Linked DNA regions of Homo sapiens. The protein of the gene in region 6 interacts with the protein of the main gene of each other region in a pairwise test. Each region holds a gene or a part of one and is shown on either strand. Other genes may lie near its edges.

Evidence for each region.
Region 1: the proteins of HMBOX1 (region 6) and PIP4K2B interact in binary tests that used the Homo sapiens proteins (3 or more experiments, as listed by UniProt).
Region 2: the proteins of HMBOX1 (region 6) and POLDIP3 interact in a two-hybrid assay, tested with the Homo sapiens proteins (one large-scale study listed by BioGRID).
Region 3: the proteins of HMBOX1 (region 6) and ABITRAM interact in binary tests that used the Homo sapiens proteins (3 or more experiments, as listed by UniProt).
Region 4: the proteins of HMBOX1 (region 6) and ENTPD2 interact in a two-hybrid assay, tested with the Homo sapiens proteins (one large-scale study listed by BioGRID and IntAct).
Region 5: the proteins of HMBOX1 (region 6) and SYT6 interact in binary tests that used the Homo sapiens proteins (3 or more experiments, as listed by UniProt).
Region 7: the proteins of HMBOX1 (region 6) and ANKRD36 interact in a two-hybrid assay, tested with the Homo sapiens proteins (one large-scale study listed by BioGRID).

Annotation. Positions count from the first base shown.
Region 1 is NC_000017.11:38,772,057-38,775,556, reverse strand, and holds part of PIP4K2B (phosphatidylinositol 5-phosphate 4-kinase type-2 beta), read left to right. Parts: intron 1-3,500. UniProt on the Homo sapiens protein: Participates in the biosynthesis of phosphatidylinositol 4,5-bisphosphate. Preferentially utilizes GTP, rather than ATP, for PI(5)P phosphorylation and its activity reflects changes in direct proportion to the physiological GTP concentration.
Region 2 is NC_000022.11:42,590,884-42,594,383, forward strand, and holds part of POLDIP3 (polymerase delta-interacting protein 3), read right to left. Parts: intron 1,202-3,500; coding exon 1,072-1,201; intron 1-1,071. UniProt on the Homo sapiens protein: Is involved in regulation of translation. Is preferentially associated with CBC-bound spliced mRNA-protein complexes during the pioneer round of mRNA translation. Contributes to enhanced translational efficiency of spliced over nonspliced mRNAs.
Region 3 is NC_000009.12:108,937,400-108,941,454, reverse strand, and holds the end of ABITRAM (protein Abitram), read right to left. Parts: intron 2,260-4,055; coding exon 2,183-2,259; intron 2,071-2,182; coding exon 2,001-2,070; intron 1,907-2,000; coding exon 1,769-1,906; 3' UTR 501-1,768; downstream 1-500. UniProt on the Homo sapiens protein: Actin-binding protein that regulates actin polymerization, filopodia dynamics and increases the branching of proximal dendrites of developing neurons.
Region 4 is NC_000009.12:137,047,607-137,051,061, forward strand, and holds the end of ENTPD2 (ectonucleoside triphosphate diphosphohydrolase 2), read right to left. Parts: coding exon 3,296-3,455; intron 2,933-3,295; coding exon 2,678-2,932; intron 2,384-2,677; coding exon 2,264-2,383; intron 1,470-2,263; coding exon 1,335-1,469; intron 1,255-1,334; coding exon 1,051-1,254; 3' UTR 501-1,050; downstream 1-500. UniProt on the Homo sapiens protein: In the nervous system, could hydrolyze ATP and other nucleotides to regulate purinergic neurotransmission. Hydrolyzes ADP only to a marginal extent. The order of activity with different substrates is ATP > GTP > CTP = ITP > UTP >> ADP = UDP.
Region 5 is NC_000001.11:114,098,370-114,101,869, forward strand, and holds part of SYT6 (synaptotagmin-6), read right to left. Parts: intron 897-3,500; coding exon 725-896; intron 1-724.
Region 6 is NC_000008.11:29,012,395-29,015,894, reverse strand, and holds part of HMBOX1 (homeobox-containing protein 1), read right to left. Parts: intron 861-3,500; exon of another isoform or gene 773-860; intron 1-772. UniProt on the Homo sapiens protein: Binds directly to 5'-TTAGGG-3' repeats in telomeric DNA. Associates with the telomerase complex at sites of active telomere processing and positively regulates telomere elongation.
Region 7 is NC_000002.12:97,245,653-97,249,152, forward strand, and holds part of ANKRD36 (ankyrin repeat domain-containing protein 36A), read left to right. Parts: coding exon 1-419; intron 420-1,823; coding exon 1,824-1,976; coding exon of another isoform or gene 1,977-2,018; exon of another isoform or gene 2,019-3,491; coding exon 3,492-3,500.

The DNA.
Region 1 (3,500 bases), on a different chromosome or scaffold from region 6:
AGCTGAATAAGGCTGAGCATGGTGGCTAACACCTGTAATCCCAGCAGCTCAGGAGGCTGAGGCAGAAGGACTGCTTGAGGCCAGAAGTTGGAGACCTGGGCAATTTACTGAGATCCTGTCTCTACAAAAAATTAAAAACTAGCTGGGTGTGGTGACATGTGCCTGTAGTCCTAGCTATTCAGGAGGCTGGGTGGGAGGATCCCTTGTGCCTAGGAGTTCACGGTTGTGGTGAGCTATGATCATGCCACTGTGCATCAGCCTGAACTAGAGGGTAAGACCCCATCTCTTTAAAAAACAAAACAAAAGCTAGGCGCGGTGGCTCACGCTTGTAATCCCAGCACTTTGGGAGGCCAAGGCAGGCGGATCACGAGGTCAGGAGATCGAGACCATCCTGGCTAACACGGTGAAACCCCGTCTCTACTAAAAATGCAAAAACAAAATTAGCCAGGTGTGGTGGTGGGCGCCTGTAGTCCCAGCTACTCGGGAGGCTGAGGCAGGAGAATGGCATGAACCCGGGAGACGGAGCTTGCAGGGAGCCGAGATCGTGCCACTGCACTCCAGCCTGGGCGACAGAACGAGACCTCATCTCAAAAACACACACACACACACACACACAAAAACTGATTAATATTCCATTGTATGGATGTATTACATTTTGTTTATTCATCAGTTAATGGACACTTGTTATATCAGTTGGGGTTCTCCAGAGAAACAAAACCTATAGGATGTTTTGTAAATCTCTTTATACCAAGATATTTATTTTTTATTTTATTTATTTATTTTTTTTGAGACAGAGTCTTGCTCTGTCACCCAGGCTGGAGTACAGTGGCGCGATCTTGGCTCACTGCAAGCTCCGCCTCCCGGGTTCACGCCATTCTCCTGCCTCAGCCTCCCGAGTAGCTGGGACTACAGGCGCCCACCACCATGCCCAGCTAGTTTTTTTTGTATTTTTAGTAGAGATGGGGTTTCACCATGTTAGCCAGGATGGTCTTGATCTCCTGACCTCATGATCTGCCTGCCTCGGCCTCCCAAAGTGCTGGGATTACAGGTGTGAGCCACCACGCCCGGCCCTAAGAGATTTATTTTAAGGAATTGTTTCATGGGATTATGGATACCAACGAGATCTGCAGTCAGCAAGCCGGAGGCCCAGGAGAGCTGGTGGTGTGGTTTTATTCTACAGGCCATCAGGCCACCAGGCAGAAGGAGTTCCCTCTTCCTCACCGGAGGGTCACCCTTTTTCTTCTCTTCAGGCCTTCTGCTGATTGGATGATGCCCATCCACACTGGGGAGGGCCATCTGCTTTACTCAGTCCACCAGTTCAATGCTCATTTCACCCAGAAACCCTCACAGACACACCCAGAATAATGCTTGACCAAGTGTCTGGGCACTCAGGCCCAGTCCAGCTGGCATATACAATTAGCCATCACACTTAGGTTGCTTCCACCTTGTAGCTGTTGGGAATAATGCTACTGTGAACATGGGTGTCATAAACTTCGTTTTGCTAGGAAGCGTTTCCTTAGTCACCCCCAACTATGTTCTTTCCTTATTCTGCCTTTCATCATCTGACATTATTTGTCCTGAGTCTTTGTCCTTCTCCCTTTTCTACCCTCTCCCCCTACTGTGGTTCTGAGAAGAATTTAATGCAGTTTACTCAGTGCATTTGTTTTCAATGCATGTTGCTTTATAAATGTTCTCAGGTGGGTGGAGGGCATGGTGCATGGACCTTCTTTTTCCTGGGACCCTAGCCCCTTCTCCCTGGGCCTTGAGAAGGCTTTGTCTGGAAGTGCTCAGAGTGGCATCCCTCCCTCCCTTCCTCTTCCAAGGAGATCCTGCTGGGCTCCCATCTTTAGGGCTCCTTGTCCTTAGTTGTGTTCTGGGCTCGTGCATAGAGCTGCTCTGCTTCCATGATGATTCTCCTCCTAGTTCTCTGTTAGGACCTAACATGGTGGTCAGTCTAACAGTCTCCTAGTGACCACTGTATGATGGTGACTGCACTCTTGCCTCATTATTAGCTAAACTGGAATGCTAGCTGGCCATTTCCATCCTGTATCATTCCATACTTTGTCTTGAAATCCTAGATAAAAGACTTGAACCACCACCCTGCTCACAGCACCCATTATACAGATGAGAAAACTAAGGCTTGGCAAGGGGAGTCACATGATGCTAGGGGAGGACTTTCCCCCAGCACCACACAGCCTCTTTTGACCTTCAGGGAATGGGTTGAGAATATTGGTTGGTTCTGGCTGCCATTCTTGTATGGTTTTGTGTTCCCTTTTCCTTTTTTTTCTATTTTTACCTGGGCTGAAAAGTCGATGACATAGTTTTTTCAGACTTTGTCTCTGAGGCCAGTTAGAAGTATATTTTACCTTGCAACCCAATGGATACACACAACTGAAACACTGTCTACCCTTATTTTCTGTCATGTATTCTGATATTTTCTATTCTATTTTATTATACAGTAGTCCCCCCTTATCAGCAGGGGACATGTTCCAAGATCCCCAGTGGACGCCTGAAGCCACAGATAGTACTGAACCCTGTATATACTATGCGTGAATTTTTTTTCCTTCTTCACAATTTCACGGATAGAAGATTTGTTCTTACAGGAGATCTTAGCAACCTCAGCATGCAATTTATTTTCTTTGTAAGTCAAGAGCTTTCACCTTTTCACTTAAAGCTGGCCAGGTGCAGTGGCTCACACCTGTAATCCCAGCACTTTTGGGAGGCTGAGGCAGGTGGATCACTTGAGGTCAGGAGCTCGAGACCAGCCTGGCCAACATGATGAAACTGTCTCTACTAAAAATACAAAAATTAGCTGAGTGTGGTGGTGCATGCCTGAAGTCCCAGCTACTTGGGAGGCTGAGACAGGAGAATCACTTGAACCTGGGAGGTGGAGGTTGCAGTGAGCCGAGATTGCACCAGTGCACTCTAGCCTGGTGACAGAGCAAGACTCTGTCTCAAAAAAAGAAAGCACTTTATGGCTTCTCTTTGGCATATCTGAATTGCCAACATCACTACTCTTGCTCTGTGGAGTCATAATGAAGTCAAATATGGGTTACTTGAATACAAGCACTGTGATACAACTATAGTGAACTGATAACCAAGACAGCTACGGACAGCTACTGAAAGACTAATGGGACGTTAGTGCATACAGTGTGGATATACTGCACAAAGGGATAATCTGCATCCTGGGCAGCACTGAATGGGACATAGCAAGATTTTATCATGCTACTCGGAATGGTACACTATTTAAAAACTTATGAATTATTTCTGGAATTTTCCATTTAATATTTTTGGACTGTAGTTGACCACAGGTAACTGAAACCATTGTGGATAAGGGTGGACTACTGCATTTAATTTAAAGAAATCCTAGTTCCAGCCCACTACATTGGGTTTAGGACTCATAATGGGTTGAAATTTTGATCTGAAATATATTGTTGTGTCATATCCATCGCTCCATCCTCTTCCATAGTATATCATTTCATTATTTCTTTCCTCAAACT
Region 2 (3,500 bases), on a different chromosome or scaffold from region 6:
CAACATGGTGAAACCCTATCTCTACTAAAAATACAAAAAAATTAGCTGGGCTTGGTGGCGTGCACCTGTAGTCCCAGCTACTTGGGAGGCTGAGGCAGGAAAGCCGCTTGAACCGGGGAGGCGGAGGTTGCAGTGAGCTGAGATCACGCCACTGCACCCCAGCCTGGGCAACAGAGAGAAACTCAAAAAAAATAAAAAAATAAAAAAATAATAAAAAATAAAAATAAAAAAAAGAAAGAAAAAGGAAAATAAGTATCTTTCCACATCCAAACATATGACAAAAAATAAGAAAAAACAAAAAAAGAACAGAAATTCAAAACAAAATTAATTTCTTTAATGACATACAAATGGCCAATAAGCACATGAAAAGGTGCTCAACATCATTAGCCATGGGGAAATGCAAATCAGAACTCCACTGACTCACCCAGGGGAGTTCACCCAGGTGCCAAGATTTAGCCAAGGCTCCAGGTCTTTTATTTGTAATTTTTTTTATTGTTGTATTGTTTTATTAGTCTCTGCTTCTCCACTTCTAGCACAGGGCCTTGGTCCACAGTAGGCACTCAATACATACTGAAAGAACAAATGAGTGGAAAAGGAGCATGGCAGACAGAATTCTTCTCTACAGGCTGTCTGGAGATGAAAAATATGAACCTCAAGTCAATAAAGTCTGTTGTTTACCCACCAGGAGCAGCTCTCACCCAGGTGTCAACATTCAGACAAAACTCCAGGGCTGGGAGGAACTTCTGCCCTAGCACTAAACAGATCAACATCTGGGAGGCAACAGCTGTGCCTCTTGGCTCCCCTGGCAAGACCCCTTAAGAGAACCATCCATGGAGAAATGCTGTTTTCCTTTTTGCTGGGCTCAAAAGCTTAAGGGCTGGGTGAAAATCCAGGGCCCTGTGTAACCCACAGCTCAGGACTACTCAGAGACTGCACGGCAGTTCCTGGTGCAGACGAGGCCCCAGAGATGGGTTCCACCCATCTCACAGAGACTTCCCCTGGAAGGCCTGCTACCTGACAGCAAGTAGAGATGAGTGGGAGGGTCAGGGGACTGCTTTCTCCCTAACTTACCGTCCAGACACCGGTTGTTGTACTTCTTATATGCGGTGATGGCATCGTCCTTTTTCACAAACACCACCTCCGCTACCCCAGGATGGACCAGTCGAGCTCGCTTGAGGGCCCCACACACACAGAAAAGCTCCTGCACACAACAAGAGGGGTTGGGATTGGGGAAGGATTTCTCAGCACCTGCCGCTCACACACTCTGAAGGCCCTGGGGTGTGGTGGTTCCGCTGCAGCTAAATGCGCCCTGCGCCTGAGACTGCGGGGAGGCTCCACGCGAGGTGGTGCTCTGGAGACATCCACAGGCTTCAACACAGCACCAGATGAGGTCAGCAGTGGGAAAGGGGCTGGGTTTACAAGCCTTGGATCACCTGGGATCTCCCAGCAAGCCACCACCAAAGTCTTCAGTGCCCACCTCAACAGGGATAAAACAGTTATGAAAATTTTCGCAAAGAGCCCTGTCATTAGAATACATGTATACAAAGAAAGACAGCTGCTAATATGTCACCTGAGAATCTGTTACAAATACAAATTCTGGAGTTCTACCCAGAGTCCTGGTTTGGCTGGACTGAAGGGTTTCCCTGGACATGAGACTTTGAGTGATGAAACCAGGAGAGTCCCCAGCAAAACAGGGACAGTTGGTCACTCTAAGTCAGACCTGAGTTTGATCCCCCAGGCTCTGCTTTCTATCTGCTATGAGACGTCTAGCAAATTACTTAACTTCTCTGAGCCTGTTTCCTCCTCTGAAAATAAAAAGGACTAGCTTACTTCCCAGCTTTACTGGAAAGCTCAACTGAGATAATTTTTAAGGCAGTGCTTTGCACACATCATTGAGTCCGATCTCCACCTCATTTTACAGACAAGACGACTAAGGCCAGAGAGGGAGCAAAATGTGAAGATGGACAGAGGCTGACTAGCACTCACGCCATTTCTTCACCTGCAACTGCCTTCACAAGGTTGCTGTGAGGGCCAAAAGAAGGTTTATGAAAAGGTCCTTGACATGGTTTGTTTTTAATGGTAAATATCAAAACAAGATGCCCCTCTGCACCTGCAGGAGACTGGTTCCAGAACCGCTCGCAGATACTAAAATCTGTAGATGCTCAAGTCCCTGCTATAAAATGCTGTAGTATTTACACATAACCTATGCACATCATCCACTATACTTTAAATCATCTCTAGATTACTTATAATACCAAATACAATGTAAATGCTATATAAATAGTTATACTGTATTTCTAAAATTTGTATTATTTCTCATCATACTGTTATTTTTAAAAATTTGAGTATTTTCATTCAGTGGTTGGCTAAATCCACAGATGCAGAACCGACAGATATGGAGGGCCAACTATAAATAGTAGGTGTAATTCCAATTTTATTACCATTGTCCTTTTAACATTGCCTATTTGGGTAGAAGAGAAGCGAGGGTGATTATTACTAGCAATTTCCCCTGAGCACTGATCATGACTGGTGTTTAGTTTTCCACCATTATGTATCTTCCAAGAGTCTGCCTAAAGTGACTGGCACATAGCAAGTACTCAGTAAATGGCAGTTGTTATTACGCTCCTTAACAGCTTTAATTCTTTTCTTTTTTTGAGAGAGTCTCACTCTGTCACCCAGGCTGGAGTGCAATGGCGTGACCTCGGCTCACTGCAACTTTCACCTCCCAGGTTCTAAGTGATTCTCCTGCCTTAGCCTCCTGAGTAGCTGGGACTACAGGCACGTGCCACCACGCCTGGCGAATTTTTCTGTTTTTAGTAGAGACAGGGTTTTGCCATGTTGGCCAGGCTGGTCTCGAACTCCTGACCTCAGGTGATCCACCAACCTTGGCCTCCCAAAGTGCTGGGATTACAGGCGTGAGCCACTGCACCCGGCAATCAGCTTTAATTCTTAATGACTTGTCAAGTATTACACAAAATAGGCTACAATTTCCATCCTCACGTGCACCATTCACAGTACTGTCCCTGCTAAAGGAGAAGGAGATACGAGTGACCCATCTCACGGCATGCGTGTGTTTCACAATTAAGATTTAACCTCAGCTGGGCACAGTGGCTCACACCTGTAATACCAGCACTTTGGGAGGCCAAGACAGGCAGATCATGAGGTCAGGAGTTCAAGACCAACACGGCCAACATGGTGAAACCTCGTCTCTACTGAAAAATACAAAAATTAGCCGGGTGTGGTGGCACACGCCTATAATCCCAGCTACCAGGGAGGCTGAGGCATAAGAATCACTTGAACCCAGGAGGCGGAAGTTGCAGTGAGCCAAGATCGCACTACTGGCACTCCAGCCTGGGCGACAGAGCAAGACTCCATCTTTAAAAAAAACAAATCGAGGTGGGTGGATCATTTGAGGTCACGAGTTCGAGACCAGCCTGGCCAACATGGTGAAACCCTGCCTCTACTGAAAATACAAAAATTAGCCAGGCGTAGTGGCAGGC
Region 3 (4,055 bases), on a different chromosome or scaffold from region 6:
AATTACAATAGAAATAATGGGAGAATGATGTGAGGTAATGTTACATGTAAAATGTTATACACAATTCTTTTACTACGTTTACTGTCATAGTTTTATGACGCCTTCAAGAGTCATTGTGCTACTTAAAGTGAGGATCTGCTGGTTTGTTTATATTTTCAGCTAATAGCACCATCGTGGAGGTGTTTATCCACTTACTACATGTATCATGTCTGGGGGGTATATTTAGGGGGATAGTCATGCTGGCACTCAGATTACAAGTTTTTCCTATGAACCAAAATGTTGTTTTATTTACAAAATAAGTAAGTATTATTTTGTAAATAATTAAAACTTAAAAATTCCAACCCCCACTTGTACTTTCATTAGATAATATTTTTGCATACCTGAAAAAATACTGTTCTCTAGTGAAAGAAAGAGCAAGTGGGGGTTGGGAAGGGGTAACTTATGACTTCAACAGCATAAGAGGATAGATAACCAATGGAATTAATACATCGAATGATTTCTTCTGTATAAAAGTATATTTTATTTAAAAACAGTGATATTGACATGTATGTTATAGCCCTTACAGAAAAATAACACGTTTTATAGTCCTTTTATTTGAAATTCAGTGTAAATCACTCTTAAACTATAAATTCACAGTTGTTGGAGGTTTTTTTTTACTTTAAATGATGTGAAAGCATTTGTTCCATTCAAAGGCCCCTATGCCTTTGAATGACATATTCTCAGTAACTTCTTTGCCAGTAACTAGAGTATGTGAGACTGAGTAACTATAATGTGCATATTTCAAGAATTAGCTTCCCGCTGCATTATAACACATTTCCTAGGAAAGCCTTTGTATTTTTCATAGCCTTTTCACATATCCCTCATTTAAGAAGTCACAGTGTTGCAGTTTTACTTTGTTTCAGAGGGGAAGGCCATCTTGTTGGCATAAGGGGGACAGAAGATATAATATACTCTACACTCCGGCCTCTTCCCTACAACCTAAAAGGGAGAGGAGTTGAGGCAGATGGGCTAGGACTAGGCTTTTTGGTAGGCACATTATAGAAGACTGGGTAAGAAAGGTGGGTTAGGTTTTTTTAAACTTCAAACTGTTAGGAAAACGAGGCAAAAGCAATAACCATACCATATGTTCAAACAGAAGTAGGTTAAAATGTAGTAGTTATCCCTTGGTTTACATAGGGGATTGGTTCCAGGAACTTCCACATATACCCAAATCCATACGTGAGAACTCAAGTCCTGCAGTTGGCCCTTTGGAACCTGAGTATATGAACCTGCTCTATAAGTGGGTTTCGTGTTTGGTTAATGATATATTTTTGACTCGTTTATAGTTGAAAATAGTCCATGCATAAGTGGACCCTTGCAGTTCAAACCTATGTTGCTCAAGGGTCAAATGTATTTACTTCTGGATTATGGGATGATGGGTAAATTATTTTTACTTGGCTACTTAAAACTCTTCTGTATTTTCTAAATCTTCTTCAAAGAGCTTTGTTTGTTTTTAATCAGAAAAACATGCCTTGCATGCCAGTTGTTAGAGAGATGCAAGAGAACAGTGTGAGTACATGGGCAGGCCAGATCTGGCAGGCTGTAGACAAATGGGAACCAAGGCTCATTATGAAGACAGAGAGGGAAAACTAAGTGAAGCACTAGGCCTCCCCTGCATATGGCTGGCTGTTAGGTATGCTTTACATATACTGGTTCTTCTCCTTTAGTACCCTGATGGTTTAGGCCAGGTAACAAGAATCCCACTTTGCTTTTTGTTCCATGTCAATCCTCATGACGTAGCTGTTGTGGCATTAATGCGTTTCACCATGACTTCTTCATATTGTTTTTGTGTCAGTAACCCTTCTGTTATGCTTTTACTTTCTTCAAATTTGGGTAACACAACTGCAATGTAGCCTTCAGTAGATGGCTGGAAAGGAAAGAACATTTAGTACTGTCAAACGATGAAAAAAAAACCAATAAAAGGTATGTGGATGAGATCATATTTTTTCTCTCTCTTTTACCTTTTCTTGAAGAATAGATGGCTTATGGAGGATGTTTTCATTCACTTCCATCAAACGTCCTCTAACACAACTATTAAAAAAATTTAAGATTTCAGCATGTTTACTTAGTTAAAAAAAATTGTTTCTAAGAAAAAAAATTACCTCCCTTTGGTCTCCTAAATGGTGGCTAAAAAGTTACTCACCTAGACACAGTATATTCTTCACCATCTGAGCAGTAAATCTTACAGAGAGGTGCAAGCTCTGTTAGAAACTGTGCCCCCTGTGTAATGAGACGGAAGAAGTAATCAGTTGATGGACATTTCCACTTTCCTTTGAGAAGTAGCCCTTAGGTGTATAACAGGATGTATTCCTGGAACTGGTGTTTTAAATCAGTTACTTCAGTATATAAAAACCATTCATTAATTTCAGAACCTATATGAATATAAGTACCTACTGTGTGCCAGGTGCCATCCTAGGTCTAGGGAAAAAAGCTAAGACACATGATAAATGGGAATTTACAGACTGATAATATATTTTATCAACTGTAAATGAAAAAGCTACATATAACCAGGTATAAAGATTTCAAAAGTGTGGGAAAATCCATCAACAAGAAACAATATAAAATTCAACATGACACAGTATGACAGCAATATTGTATAAAGTTAGTTTCATTAAGATTTCTACCTCATTTTAATATTAGAACTTAATAGATAAAGGAACTTATTTACCAGGGTCAATCACTAAGACTTTTTGAAGAAGGGATATTGTTCTTTCCCCCCCCCCCCTTTGTAATTCCCCAGTGTGTTAGTAAGGGATATTTTTTCTAGTTAAGAAAAACAAAAACAAAAACATGCACTTTGAGGAAAATGTGGAAAACAAAAGTTTTAAGCAGCAAAATAAAAATAATTGACCCATGAGTCAATACTACATTTTGATGTGTATGTATTTGAATGTCATGGCATGGTTATTGTTTCATGTACTCCACTAGATGGATATACCTGGGGAGGCTCTCACAAGTATCTACAGGGAGGCTCATGAGAGCCAGTGCAGGCATGTTTCATGTGTTGCCCTCTTTTCTCCCATGAATTTTTCCTGTAGTGGACATAGGCATTTCAGGTTAAGATGCTATTCTTTATGACCCCTTTATTTACCACTCAAAACATTTTTAGATGGCATTCAGATATTACTATATTGGCTTCACTCCTCCGCACGTGGGTTCTTCATTTTAAAATACTAGAGTCATTGTGACTTTCTGCTTTTGGAAGGAAGGGGAAGGCTTGTGTTAAAAGAGCAGACACAAAAGAGCTAGGTCTGTGCCAAAACAGCAGAAATGTTTTGATGCCTTTTTGTCACCTCCTTTGGGAGAATGATTGGCAGTTCTGAGATCCAGTGAAAACTTACTGTAGTGGGTTCAATATGCAGGTCCCTCTCTGTTCTTCACTTGTAACAGGAGTGTTACTTTTTTTTTTTTTTTTTTTTGAGACAGGGTCTTGTTCTGTCATCCAGGCTGGAGTGCAGTGCTGCCATCATGGCTCACTGCAGCCTTGACTCCTGTGCTCAAGCAATCCTCTTACCTCAGCCTCCTGGGTAACTGGGACTATAGGCACATGCCACCATGCCCAGCTAATTAAAAAAAAATTTTTTTTTTTTGGTAGAAATGAGGTCTTGTTATGTTGCCTAGGTTTGTCACAAATTCCTGGCCTCAAGTGATCTTCCCGCCTCGGCTTCCCAAAGTGCTGGGATTACAGGCATGAGCAACTGTACCTGCCTTAAGTGTTACTATTTTGGACAGAGATTTATCATTGAAACTTCAGAAGTCTTAAGTGTTATTGTAACTTGTAGACTATCGTTTAAGAGAGGTGCATGCTTTTCTAAGTCCACTAGTTTCTTGAGTGAGGAAAAATCAGTAATTGTAAAGCACAATAAATCAGTAATTATTAGGGGACTTCAGGCCTACAAAGGGGGGTTTGAATAAGGGTCTCCTAGAATAGTGAGAGCAATTAGCAGAAACTCTTAGTATGAACTCAGTAAATGAACGACTTAAATCATCCACAGAAACTTTCCCAACCAGTGGGT
Region 4 (3,455 bases), on a different chromosome or scaffold from region 6:
TCCTGCCTATGGGTCCTGGTCCTGATCTCATCTCCCACCCCTGTGCCACCTCCTGATGTGGGCCTGCCCTCCCGCCAGTCTCTACCAGCACTGACTGCCCCCTAGGAAGCCGCCTGGCTGGCTGCCACCCACTCTCCGCCACCTCCCTGACCTCTACCCTCACCCCCAGGCTCACTGTACCAGGACCCAACCTTCAGTCTGGCCTTGGTCACCAACGCAGATCTGGATGTGATGGTTTTGGGGAACTCTGCTGGCCAGAGAAGACTCAAGGGCCCAGGAACATTCCCTCGGGCCAGCCATCCTGCAGCTACTCTAGGCTGCCACGGCACACCAGGGCAGCAGCCAGTGCCCCAGGCCTGGCTCCAGAGCAGAAGGCAGTAGGGAGGGATGGTGTCCACCCTCAGGACCAAGGGCAGGCCCGTGCGGCTAGAACAGCGGGAAGGTGGGGGCACAGGCCACAGCAAGGATGCCCCACCCCACAGACACTCTCCTTTCACGTCTCTAGGAAAAACTTTTTATTACAAAATTTTTACAAGTAGGTGCTGGGCTGGCTGCCAGCCCGTGGGCTGTGACCCTCCCCAGTACAGACCCAGACTACACAGAAGGAGCCTCTAAGGGCTGATTCTCAGGACCAAGGCCCCACTCTCTGGAGACCCAGCCCTGAGGAGGAGGAGGAGGAGCACGGGGCCTGCAGTGATGCCCAGGCTGAAGCGGGCTGGAGGGGTTCAAGGAGCTGGATTGAGCGCTCTTTGCCCACCCAGGCTCCTGTGGGTACCAGAGTCTCAGTTCCTATTTCCTGGGCTGCCTTAGGGGCAGAGACGCTGAGGGTGGGGTGGAAGGATGGAGAAGACAGTGGTGGGGTGGAGCGGTGGGGGATAGAGGGTGGGTGGAGGAATGCAGGATACAGGGGCGGGGAGAGAGGTTGGGAGAGGGGTGGGTGGAGGGGTGGGGATACAGGGGTGGGAGGTACAGGGGTTGTGGGAGGGGTGGGAGTACGGGGTGGGGATACAGGGGTTGGGGGAGGGATGGGGCAGCTGCCCCCGTCGGCCCCTAAATGGTGCTTGGCAGCTTGGCGGAGTGCACCTGACGCAGCAGCAGGACAAGCGCAGCCAGGAGCGCGGAGGCGAAGAGCAGCAGGAGGACGACCCAGGAGCTGAAGTCTGTGCCCTTGCGCAGCCCCGGCGGGTCGGCGGGGATCAGGTTGGTCAGGTTCAGCATGTAGCCGAGCGCCCAGCCCACTGCAGTGTCCGCGGCCTGCGGGGAAGGGCGTGGCCTCAGCTCCCGAGAGGCCCCGCCCCGCAAGGTCGGCCCCGCCCCGCCCCGCCCCAGCCCACCTTCTTCTGGAAGATCACGCCGCCGAAGGCGCGCTCGTCGAAGCCGTAGCCGCGACTCAGCAGCTGCTGCACGAACATGGCCCCGGCGCAGTAGTCGGCCAGGCGGGCCCGTTGCCCTGGCACCCGAGCTTGCAGCTGGGACGCGGGCGGGACACCGTCAGGCAGGCGACCACCAGGAGGTCTCGGCCCCACGGGGAGAGGGGGCCGGCGGCGTGCTTCACCCCTCCCCAGACACACACGGGCCGTGCGAGGCCAGAGACCACCACACAGGCCCGGACACGAATGGCAAGACCGAGTCCGAGGGGCACCCCCGGCAGGGCACGCTTCCATCCCTCCCCAGCCAGCGCCCATGCCTGGAAGGCCAGTGAGGAGGGACAGCAGGCATGGCCACCAGGGAGCAGGAGGCAGCAACACCTTGGTGTGTGGCCAGGGGAACAGGACGAGCTCCAGGCCTGAGTCTGCCCGCTGGCTCGCCGCCTGTCCCCACCTCCCTCACCCCAGTCTGTCTGAGACTAGGCCCTGGGAGGACAAAATGGGGCCTCGCTCACCACCCCGGTCCTGGGACGACTCGTACGTTTCTCTTGGAGTCTCCGGTGGGCACACTCCCGGTGCCCAGACCCACTTCCATCTTCCCTTGTGTGGTACCATGGAGGGAACCAGTGGCAGAAGCCAGAAACCTGGGCACCGGCCTCCCCCTGCCCTCCAGATCTGGGATGAGGGTCGGGCCTGGCGAAGCTTCTCCAACCCGCCCGACTTGTTCACAGCCTACCGGCCACAGCCACGCCACCTCTGGAGTCAGCCTAATGCCTGCCATCGCCCCCACTGCAGCGGGTGCTCCGAGAGGCCTGTCCATGCAGGGCTGGGGAGGCATGCGGAGGCGGAGGCTGAGCCCTTCCGCACAGCCCTGAAGGAGTGGGAGCGGGGCTCACCTGAGCCCAGGTCTGGTTGCAGACATTCACTGCGGCTGCCTCCAGCTGCTGCAGGGTGGCCACGGGCAGCCCCATCGAAGTCCGCAAAAAGTCCACAGTGTAGAAGAAGGCAGAGAAGGCCTGTAGGGGGCGCAGTCACACTGTGACCGAACCCCAGCGGCTCAGAGCACCTGCTGCCACCCGCCTGTCCCTACTCACGACAAAGTTCCCAGCCACCCGCCTGCCCTTACCCACGACAAAGTTCCCAGCCACCCGCCTATCCCTACTCACGACAAAGTTCCCAGCCACCCGCCTGTCCCTACCCACGACAAAGTTCCCAGCCACCCGCCTGTCCCTACCCACGACAAAGTTCCCAGCCACCCGCCTGTCCCTACCCACGACAAAGTTCCCAGCCACCCGCCTGCCCCTACTCACCACAAAGTTCCCAGCCACTGGGGGCTGGAAGACCCCATTGAAAGAGCATCGGGAGAAGGGGCAGGAGGAGAAGCTGAAGAGCCCAGAAACCAGATCTCGGCAGAGGTGGGGGTCACTGCTCCCTGACAGGCTGACCCTGGCACTGCTGTTGAAGTTCTGGGGCCGCTGGGCCATGGTGCATGGTGACTGGTACACATCCCCGAGCAGCACTTGGGTGGAAAAGCCCCTCGGCCAGCAGGGGTGGAAGCCGTGGGTCTGGGGGAATCACCAGCGTGACAGGGTGGCACCACCACCGCTCCAGAGGACCAGCCTGACAAACCTCCCACAGGTCTCACTCTGGCAACTTCACTTTTGTGCTCAGGGGCAATCCATGGCTCCCCACTGCCTGCTTGACAGATCCCAACGCCCCTGACCAGGCTCCCTCTGAGAGCCGTCCCTGGCCCTCCCTTCTCCAGGCCCAGCCCAGCCACTGGGCCTTTGCTCATGCTCTGACCCTCCCACCTGTCTTTCCAGCCAATTAAAGCCCAGCCTGGAGAAGCCTTCCACAGCACAGTGGCTGTCCAGGCTCTGCTCCAGGAGGGAACAGTGCAGTGCAGGTGAGCCAGGGTGGAGGGGCACCTGGAGGGCGCTGGCCAGCAGCCTCTGGAGGACCTGGTCACGGCCATAGCAGAGGAAGCTGTGGGTGTAGACTCGGTAGTGCTGGCCGTAGAGATGCAGCTGGACCTCGCTGGCTCTGTCCTCAGCTGGACTGGTTGTCTCAAAAGTGATCTGGGTAGAG
Region 5 (3,500 bases), on a different chromosome or scaffold from region 6:
GGCTTTATTGCATGGTTTCTTTCTCCTTTAGCTAAAGTGACAAGTGGAGAGAAGAAGTTATGGGGACCAGAGTAGTTGAAAAATGTTTTTGAGCCAGCCTAGATGGAAGAGCAGGATGAGTGGAAGAGACGAAAAATATCTGAGGAAGGGGAGATCCGATTGGATGGATATGCTGGGTCCAGATTAGGGAAGGCCATCAGAGTCCAAGGGAAAAGCCTGGATCACAGGAGCCATTGATGGTTCTTGAGAAGGGCAGGTCCAGGAAGAAAGCTGTCATTTAGGAAGATGTGTCCTTAGTATGTTGACCGAATTGTGGCAGGAATTGATGGAGGCAGGGGTCAGCTAGGAGGCTGCACAGCCATCCCAGGGTGACAGTAGTAGCAACAGCAGAAATAGAGAGGATAGAGGGGCATTTCAAAGGCCAGATAATAGGACTTGGTGCCAGATGGAAGAATGGGAATAGCAAGGGGTGAATTCAGGGAAACTGATGGACAGAGCTGCCCCTGACGGAGATAGGCCAGTTGGGAAAAGAACTTTGAACCTTTGCTAAGGGAGAATCTATGCTCTTCCTCAAACTCCTGCACCCTTCTTGGGTACAGATAGATTTGAGGCCTGAACCCTAAAGCTGAGCCCTGAATCACAAGGTCTAAGGTCAAGGAGCCCTGTGCTGGTGCTGGAGTGGGAGTGAGGGGTAGAATTACGTCCCTCTAGGACGCCTACCTACCGATCATAGTCCATGACTGAGATGAGCAGGCTGACTTGATCCATGTTTTCCGGGGGAATGTCAAAGATGATGGCCTCATTGTAGACAGGATTGAGAGTGTTTTTCTTTATGGTTGTTTTCTTCTTCTTCAGCCTCCGCCCATCACAGAGCAAGGACACTTTCACATAGGGATCTGTGCCAATGGGGACAGAGAAAAGGGAATGGAGTATGTTAAACAGATGTCTGCAAACATCATTTGCAGCAAAGGGACCGAAGCCCTAGACCTACTGCTGCTCATCAGATGGTATCAGTGGGTTGTTAAAATAATTAAACCACCTTGTATTTATGTAGCACACCTGTCTCTGAGGACACTCTGTGCTTAATAAATGCAGAGTCTTTAGCTACCTCAGTATTCTTGGGAGAGCGCCTAATGGACTTTTACTAATGGGGAAGCTGGCCCCATATCAGACATGACACCTGCCGATAGGTATGCAGTTCACAGCCCTAAATCTCAGCTCGTCAATCCCTGGCTGACTCAAAAAGGTGATGAGGCTGAACAATGACACTATTTCTTTTACCTATGTGGAGTACTATTCTTTGAGTGGCTTTTTTGTTTTACCAGAATTACAAACCAAAGGATAAAGGTTTTGGGGCGGGGTAAAAATAGGACTCAACAATGGCCAGGGAGACACAATGTGTCAGAGTGAAATGAACAGCAACAATCACAATGCTGTTCATGTCCTCCCCACCTGACAACATAATTTTGGGTCCCATTGTCTCAATAATCCCATTTCCATTTGGCATCTAGAAGGCGTGAAGTGGCCCTGCTCTCTGCTTCCCTGGAAGCCATTTCCTGCCCACTTCTGGACAGTGGAGAATGAGGGAGCTGTGGCCCGGGGAGACTCAGGGCAGCTGGTTGACATTTCCTTTCTCAGTGGGATCTTGGATTCTCTCCATCCTGCAAAGAGATGCTTTTATTGAACTTCCATGTGCCTCCCATCCTTTTGTTTTCTTTAGTTTTCTGAATGGGTATTTCATGGTCATCTTTCTACCCTGAAATTTTCTACTCACCCAAGTGAAGTGAAACCTAGTGTATCTCATAGCACAGGTGTCTCGGTCACCATCATAATTGTTATTTATGCTGCACAGCTCAAGAAATGGGAGGGCGGCTCACAGGTAATAATAGCTTTCGAGACGCTGATGTGCTGAGACACCTTGTTGCCCAGAAGCCAGGGCTCCTGTGAATCTGTCAGGAGGTGCCAGCCAAGCAGCTGCTCCCCAGCTCTGTGATTCATAGGCATATGGTTCTATCTCCTGGACATCGAGCACCCACTAGGGCCCTGTACTCCCTGGCATCATTCAGATGGCAGATGAGGCACACATCCCTGGTGGAAATTAGGGAGAACTGTGACACCTGATCAGAAACTCCAAGCCTGAAAGGCATTTTTGTAGACACCTAAATGAGCTGCCGACTAATCCATGTGGCAGCAGTAGCTATGCCTTAACCATGGGGAGATGAGGTTGGGTTTATGGAGAGACCATGAGGTGTTTAATCAACCTGCTGTCTCAAACTACACATTTGAAAGGACCCTCTCTTAGGGATTTTCAGTAAAATGGAAGTAAGAGTTTTGAGAACCGGCATGAGGCTCTGGTTTCCACAGATTCCATTCTCTATGGATATGCCCCAGGACATTATTCAGGTTCAGGTAGACAGATGGGCAGAGCTAGCCCCAATACCTGTCTTTAACACAGCAGCTTGCAAAATCCATAAGGATGTACCTTTTCTTGCAAAGTGGCTCCAGACTTGAGGTTGCTCAGGTGCCGCCTCATTCCCCTGCTCTACCTATTTCCATACACTCCCACATCAGGGCAGATTTCCATATCATGAGGCTTGGAAAAATAGAGGCAGAGCCACTTGTCCCATGGGCCACTGAGCAAATGTCTTAGCAACCTTCCCCAACTCTGTTCATCCTTACAAGGCATATCCATTTTTTTTTAAGAGACAAGGTCTTGCTGTTTTGCCCAGTCTGGTCTTGAACTTCTGGGCTCAAGTGATTCTTCCACCTCACCCTCCCGAGTAGCTGGGATTACAGGCATGAGCTACTGTGCCTGGCTGATATGAAATTTATAAAATTCAGTGCACATATTTCCCTTGCAGGAACCAACACTTTCACCAGCATCCATGAAGCCAAGCAGACAGATGACCGTTCCCTAGGCTTTTCTGGGGCAAAAGTCTGCGGTTTCTAGTGGAATGCTGGCCCCAGATGATCTTGGAGGTCCTTTCCTCTCTAACAGCCTATGATGCTCTACGCAGCTGAGGGAGGGGACACAAAGACCAGCAGTGTATTTCAGCCTCATTGTCATGGGAGCAATCAAAATCCAGCATTTAGAATGTGCTCACCACCCCTTTGTAGCATACTGGTCCTTATTATTATTTTGTGCTATTTTTAGTGTCATGGTTCTAGCAGATAGGCTTAGAGAATTGATTCAGGGCTAGTTTAGATCATTGAGAATAGGAAGATCCTGGGTTTTAGACATCAATGCCACACAATTCAAGAATAGGCAATTAATAAGCTCCATTCAATACCTAGCTTAGTCCAACATCGAATAAGTCTGGGCTGAGGGAAACCTCAAACTCATCCTCAAGAACAGGAGATCTAGTTCGAGAGGCTCCTAGCAAGTACACCCCCACTGCTTCACCCTTGGGCCAGGTTCCTCATGCTGTAAATTCAACCATCCATTCATTCGGTATCTATTTATTGAATGCTTACTGTGTTTTATCCACTGTTCCAGATAC
Region 6 (3,500 bases):
TGAAACATGCTCATGCTCATTCATTTACAGATTGTCTATGGCTATGAATGCACTGGAGCAGAAGAGCTGAGTAGCTATGATAGAGATCATATAACCTGCAAAACCTAAAATATTTACTGTCTGGCCCTTTATATGAAGTTTGCCAACCCCTGGTTTAAAAACATTTCTGCTCTACCCAACATGAAATTCTAAACTGAAACCCTTCTTTAAACAATTTAAAAGGGTTTCATTCTGCCAAAATAAACTGAGAATTCAGTCTGGGCCTAATTGAAAGTTAACTAAGTTTAGACATAAGCAGGAATTTGGGGGCTGGAGGGTTTCACAGTCTTATAGTGCTTTTCTGAAAACAAGTAGGGATTACAGCACAGCAAGAGCTCTGGAATCTACCTAATTAAAATTATATAAATGTTATTCTATAGCAAGGGTGAAAAGGACTAAAACAGAGCCAACCGGTTATCATGGCTGATCAAGATAAAGGTAGAAATAAGACTCAGTAAGGGAATACAACCTCTTGTCCAGGGGCTGACCCTTGTAAAGAAAGAAAGAGCTTCAGGATGGAGGGTGGGCAATAGGTCAGTGAATTCCAGGTAGTAGGCCACATCCATAATTGCGGCATGCTCCTTAGTAAGCAGAGTGGTAAATGGGTACAAATAGAACACAGAACAGAAAGAATCCTAACCAAGAGGTTGAAGGAAATAAGCCAACTAATAATAATGGTTCTTTCTTGGTATTGGGGTTTATTATTAATATTATGCTTCTTTGTAATATTCAGTATTGTCAAGACAGTCTCAAGAACTGAAGGAAATTCAGATGAAATAAAACTGGGCAGGAAGGAAAAGGAAGAGGGGAGAAGAAAAAAGGAGAAAAAGAAGACAGAAAAGTAAGTAGTGGCCTGGTTATTTTGAAAGAAATCAAGGCCGGGCGCGGTGGCTCATGCCTGTAATCCCAGCACTTTAGGAGGCTGAGGCGGGCGGAACACCTGAGGTCAGGAGTTTGAGACCAGCCTGACCAACATGGTGAAACCCTGTCTGTACTAAAAATACAAAAATTTGCTGGGTGTGGTGGCACACGCCTGTAATCCCAGCTACTCAGGAGGCCGAGGCAGGAGAATCGCTTGAACCCAGGAGGCAGAGGTTGCAGTGAGCCAAGATCGTGCCACTGCACTCCAGCCTGGGCGACAGAGTGATACTCCATCTCGGGGTGGGGGAAAAAAAAGAAATCAAGACAGTTTACACACAGAAGGTGAAAAATGAATAATCTTAAATTCATCAAAATACCTACTTTAAAACATAATGTTACATTACTTTTCAGATTTTTTTCTGGCTCCTTTTTCTTTTTCAATGTAGCAGTAGTTAAAAACAGCACAAAAAAGTACTCTGGAAACACTCTATTAATAACAGATTTGTTCTGGAAACCTTAGTTCATCTTGCTTTGGTTGAAATGGATGAAAAGCAAGAGCGAGTTCAAAATTACTGACTCTAACAGAAAAACACAAAGACACTAGAATGCAGGAACAATGTATTTAAGCCTTTAAACTCCTCTGAAGTAAAATACAGGAATTCTGGGTTGGCTAAGGTCCTAACAGGAAAAGTGTGTTGTCTATTTCCTTACAGAAATCTTTTTTCCCCCCATCTAAGTTTCCATTAAAACAAAATTTTGCACCTTCACCTAGCAAATCTAAACCCATGAGGAAAAAAAAAACCCAAAACTCTTTTCATAACTTGTTAAGACATATAAAAATTTGGTAAGTGTTCTCTTTACATATATCATAATGTCCTTGCTGATCAGGGTTAGCTCTGGGTGAGGGGACTATAAGCACATCATTACTACGCCATCCATAGGAACTAACCTCTCCAAAAGTAATTTCACATCTTCCCCCATGTCACACACGTTTCCCTGAGATCTAACACTCTGCAAGTGAAGGACTGGATGTTTCTTCTGATGACATTTATCTCATGTATTTGCTGCATAACCCTCTTGGCAAATTTTATTTAATTGTTTAGAAGCATGCAGAATATGCACCACATGCCAAGAGGAACTCAGCAAACCCTGTCTGCTATAGTAATGTTTAAATTAGACAAGGGAAAAAGACTGTGAACTTAATTTGATTAAATAAAGGGACTTTTGATGTCAACCATCCTGAATTTAGCACTCACTTTTTTTTAAAAAATAGGTATTTTCTTATAAGTGTTTTCATAAGAAACAAGATAAAATGTATTTGATTAGTTTCCATCAGCCTATTTTATTAATATGCCTTGGCAGGCTTTCATTTATGCTGGTAAATTCTGATGATGAGTCTGTTATCAGAGAACTACACTATATCAATCGGGTTATCAGTAAAATTAACCTAAATATCCATTCTATTATTTTTCTTGATGAGTCCACTTAAAGAGAAACTTACAAAAAACCAAAAGCCATATACAACTGGATCCAGACTGAAGAGGTTGAAAAAAAGAACTTCCGCTGGGTGCGGTGGCTCATGCCTATAATCCCAGCACTTTGGAAAGCCGAGGTGGGTGGATCACGAGGTCAGGAGTTCAAGACCAGCCTGGCCAACATGGTGAAACCCCATCTCTACTAAAAACACAAAAATCAGCTGGGCGTGGCGGCACGTGCCTGTAATCCCAGCTACTCCTGAGGCTGAGGCAGGAGAATTGCTTGAACCCGAAAGGCAGAAGTTGCAGTGAGCCAAGATTGCGCCACTGCACTCCAGCCTGGTGGCAGAGCTAGACTCTGTCTCAACAACAACAACAAAAGGACTTCACTCAAAGTATACAAAGAGAAATGCTCCAACGCCCAGGAATAGAGTCATAGAATATACAAACATTTTTGTTTTCTAAATGCTTAAATTTACAGAAGAAAAAAGAAAAAGTAGTTTTTCATTTTGTGACTTTTCTTAATTTTGCATTTTCTTCTCAGAATATATGTAAAGGGATCACACTATTTACATTTACCCTAAAGAGCTATCTTTCCTAGACAGAAAAAAAAATTATGAAATAAAAGAATTACTTGATAAAAATCACTGACAACTTATTTTCTACCTGCTTCTCAAAAGCAGGTCTGGACTGTATAAACCTAAGTTTTTCTTCCTTTTCTTTCTTTCTTTTTAATCTTACAAGGCAGATTGATTTCTTTTGGTCTGTCTCCCCCTTCCTATTACACTTTATTTTTCAAATATATAATACAAGTACATAGTATGAAATTTAGAAAGACACATTAGGCTGTGTAGTTAACTCCTTACCCCTGTACTCCCAGTCACTCAGTTCCCCTCCACAGAGCTATTCTTCCCAGTTCCTAACACAGCTTTTCAGAGATTTCTATGCTTAGATAAGCATATACATGTGTATGTGTGTGTGTTCCCCTACATAAATATGCCCTTGATACTGTTATGTACCTTTTTTACTTATGAATTCCATATCACCTCATATAAATTTAATTCATATAAAGCTGCCTTCAAAAAGTAGTTATATGGCTCCATAAGATTCCATTGTACAGATGTG
Region 7 (3,500 bases), on a different chromosome or scaffold from region 6:
TCCTCAAAACTGAGCTCCATTACACAGGAGAGGCTCTGAAAGAAAAGGCTTTGGTTTTTGAACACGTGCAAAGTGAGCTAAAGCAAAAACAGAGTCAAATGAAGGACATTGAAAAAATGTACAAAAGTGGATACAATACAATGGAAAAATGCATAGAAAAACAGGAAAGATTTTGTCAACTAAAAAAACAAAATATGTTGCTTCAACAGCAACTGGATGATGCTCGCAACAAAGCTGACAATCAAGAAAAAGCAATACTTAATATTCAAGCCAGATGTGATGCTAGAGTACAAAACCTTCAAGCTGAGTGCAGAAAGCACCGTCTTTTACTAGAAGAAGACAATAAAATGTTGGTCAATGAACTGAATCATTCGAAAGAAAAAGAATGCCAATATGAAAAAGAGAAAGCAGAAAGAGAAGTAAGTATCAAGAAAAATAAGTATTTTTCAAACTTCCTGAAGTAAAATTTAAAGTAATATTTGGTTACAGCTGAATGTTGGATCTAGTTGAATATAAAAAAGGATACATATGATAAATATATCTGCTTAGAAACATTCCTTGTCTCCAGCAAGTCAAAGTTAGAACTGAGAGATGCTTTCCTCTGATTAAAGTCAATGTGTCACTTATAAAATTTTAAGTTATAAAATGTTAACATAGACTAACATTAATAATGTAGTCTTATACTGCTGAAGTAATAATTTTAATGTATTTATGTTGCAACATTTTAAGACCATGATAAATCAGGTATATGGAAATGCTCATACCTAAAATGGTATTTTGAAATTGATTCAATTAAGTGGGGTACTTTGACAGTGAATTTCAGATTTCCTAGATGAACTGAAGTGTATTCCCTATTTCATAATTACTTTTCTTCAGTAGCTTTAAATATGTCTTAGTTGGTAAAATTTTGTTTTTCTTCATGTCAATTTGACTTAAATCTGAAACTATTTCAATCTCAAATTATGTATAGATATGACCATTCTATTCTTTCAAGGCATCTAATTTTACTTCTATTATAATATGGGGCAAATGCAGTAAATTTTAGCCAAATCATGTTTGATTTAATCTTCCCACTGGCATTTATAATTTACTTTCAGTTTTTAAATAAAAAATTTGTTCATAATTTTTATTTCAAGGCTCAATTACTATCATTTGGATATAACTTTGTCCAGGACAAAGAGAGGCATAGCTATCTGTGATTTATTAGTTTGACACTGGATCCCCATTTTCAGACTAAGGAGGATTTCAGACTAACGAGGAGTGGCAGGATTCACGTAGAGTAGGAATGGAGTGAGTACGGAGGAGAGATATAGCAGCTGAGTCAGGGCGGGAGGTGGAGGGCGGGTTACTTAGAGCATCTAAGGCCACTGGAATTTTACTTTTCTTCTGAGATAGACATCTATTGGAAGGATTTAAGCAGATGATTTAATGTGAGGAACTCTGAGGTTGATTTGAGTTTCTAATTTAAAAAAAGAGGGAAATCATTCCACAATGTATAATTTACTACCATCAGTCTCACCCACATACTCATTTCTTTTTGAGACTTCAGAAGGTTTTTAAGCATTGCAGATTCATCAAGGGAGGAATGACTAGTGGGCTGAATATGTTGTGTGAATAACAATACCAGTTTGGCAGGAAGATAACACCTTCTGTATCCTTAACTGGATTCAGTAATACACAGGAATGTGTACACATGAGGAAAAGAAGGTGAATCGGTCTGTGTGGTGATATTTTTCAAAGAGTATGCTTTAGAGTTAAATATTATTAATGGTTTAATAATAAGGTGATTTGTAAAATCAGTAACAAAAATAACATCTTATCAGGTAGCTGTGAGACAGCTTCAACAAAAACGAGATGATGTCTTAAACAAAGGATCAGCAACAAAAGCTCTGCTGGATGCTTCATCGCGTCACTGCACCTATTTAGAAAATGGGATGCAGGATTCAAGGAAGAAATTAGACCAGATGAGAAGTCAAGTATGTATGCAACTTTGCACACCAACAACTGTTAATCTGTAGCTAGTTAACTAATATAAAGTGTTTTGGGGTACTAATTTTAGTGGATGGCTTTCTTTTGTATTTTTATGATAATTAATGTTATTAAAATTTTATAGTGGATGGCTTTCTTCTGTATTTTCCTTATTATTAATTTTATTAAGATTTTATTATAATGCACCTATATCTTAATCTCTGGCTTTCATTCTGCCATTTTTTATACATATATTTTTTTCTTAAATATTTAACCTTAGGAAAGTTGAGAATTATGCATCATTTCTCACAGAAGTTGAGAGAGTTTTTTTTTCCTGTTAAACAGTCTATTTTTAATGATTTCTCTATTGGCATGGTGAGGCAAGCCAGGTTAATTCAGAGGATAATGTCTAATGGAATGTTTCAGAAAATTATCTTCTTTTTAGTCTCTACTTTTCTGAATGTATAAAGAACCTGTGTATACTTATTTCTTAGATTTCAGGTTAACTTGTTCAGAAAGGCCATTTTACTGAATAAATTTTTATTTCGATGAAAATCCTTACTTCCTTTGTATTGGGCTCAGAGAGCACACTCTGTCTCTATATGAATATGGACAGTTAGCATTTGCCAACATGTATCTATTTTCTCTTATTTGTAGAGAAAGCTAAACTAAAAAGGGGGTTATAGAAGGTCAGCAAAGGATGGGTTTGAGATGTTTGGGTTGGTTAAGTGGGCATTTAGACAACAGGGCTTCTCCTTTGGCATGTTTAATGGACATCTTTGCAGTTTAAGATGACGCTTTTAAATCACTTCTCTCCTAATGATGACCTGAGTCCTGCTATTCAATGGGAGAGTCAATAAGATCCTGTAGGATCTTATTTGGAACTGACTTTGTCGATTTTAATTTTGTTCCTGCTTGTTTTTAAATTTTCTTGTTGTTTCCCTAGAAAGGAAAGATGATGCTTAGTTTTAAATATTTAAAAATGTGCAAGTTGCTTTGCTATAATAAAACTAAATGCATACATACAAAAAATAAAATTATAGTTGATGTGGTAGTGTTTGGAATTCAAAATATAAATGCTTAGCGTGAGGTAATCCTTTATCTTTCCACATTTTACCAGTTTGTAAGTTTGAGTATTTAATTGATAAAATGTAATTCAAAAGCAAGAAGAATGTTGTGTTTTAGTCCTAGAGCAGGGGTCTGTGAACTTTTCTGTAAAGGGCCAGATAGTGTTATGTAAGGCTTTGTGAGCCATAAGATCCTTGTTGCAATAACTCGGCCCTGCAATTACAGCACAAAAGTAGCCATGAACAATATGCAGACTGAAGGGGTGTAGCAGTGTCCCACTAAAATTACTTACAAAAAACAGGTAATGGGATGATTTCTCCTAGATTATGACCTTTTATAAATAAAAAAGATTGTGATAGTCTAAAATATTTCATATATATTTTGTTGATTCATTCATCTACTGATGGACATTTAGGTCATTTCCAAATGTAATTTTTTAAAATTCTTTGTTTCAGTTTCAAGAA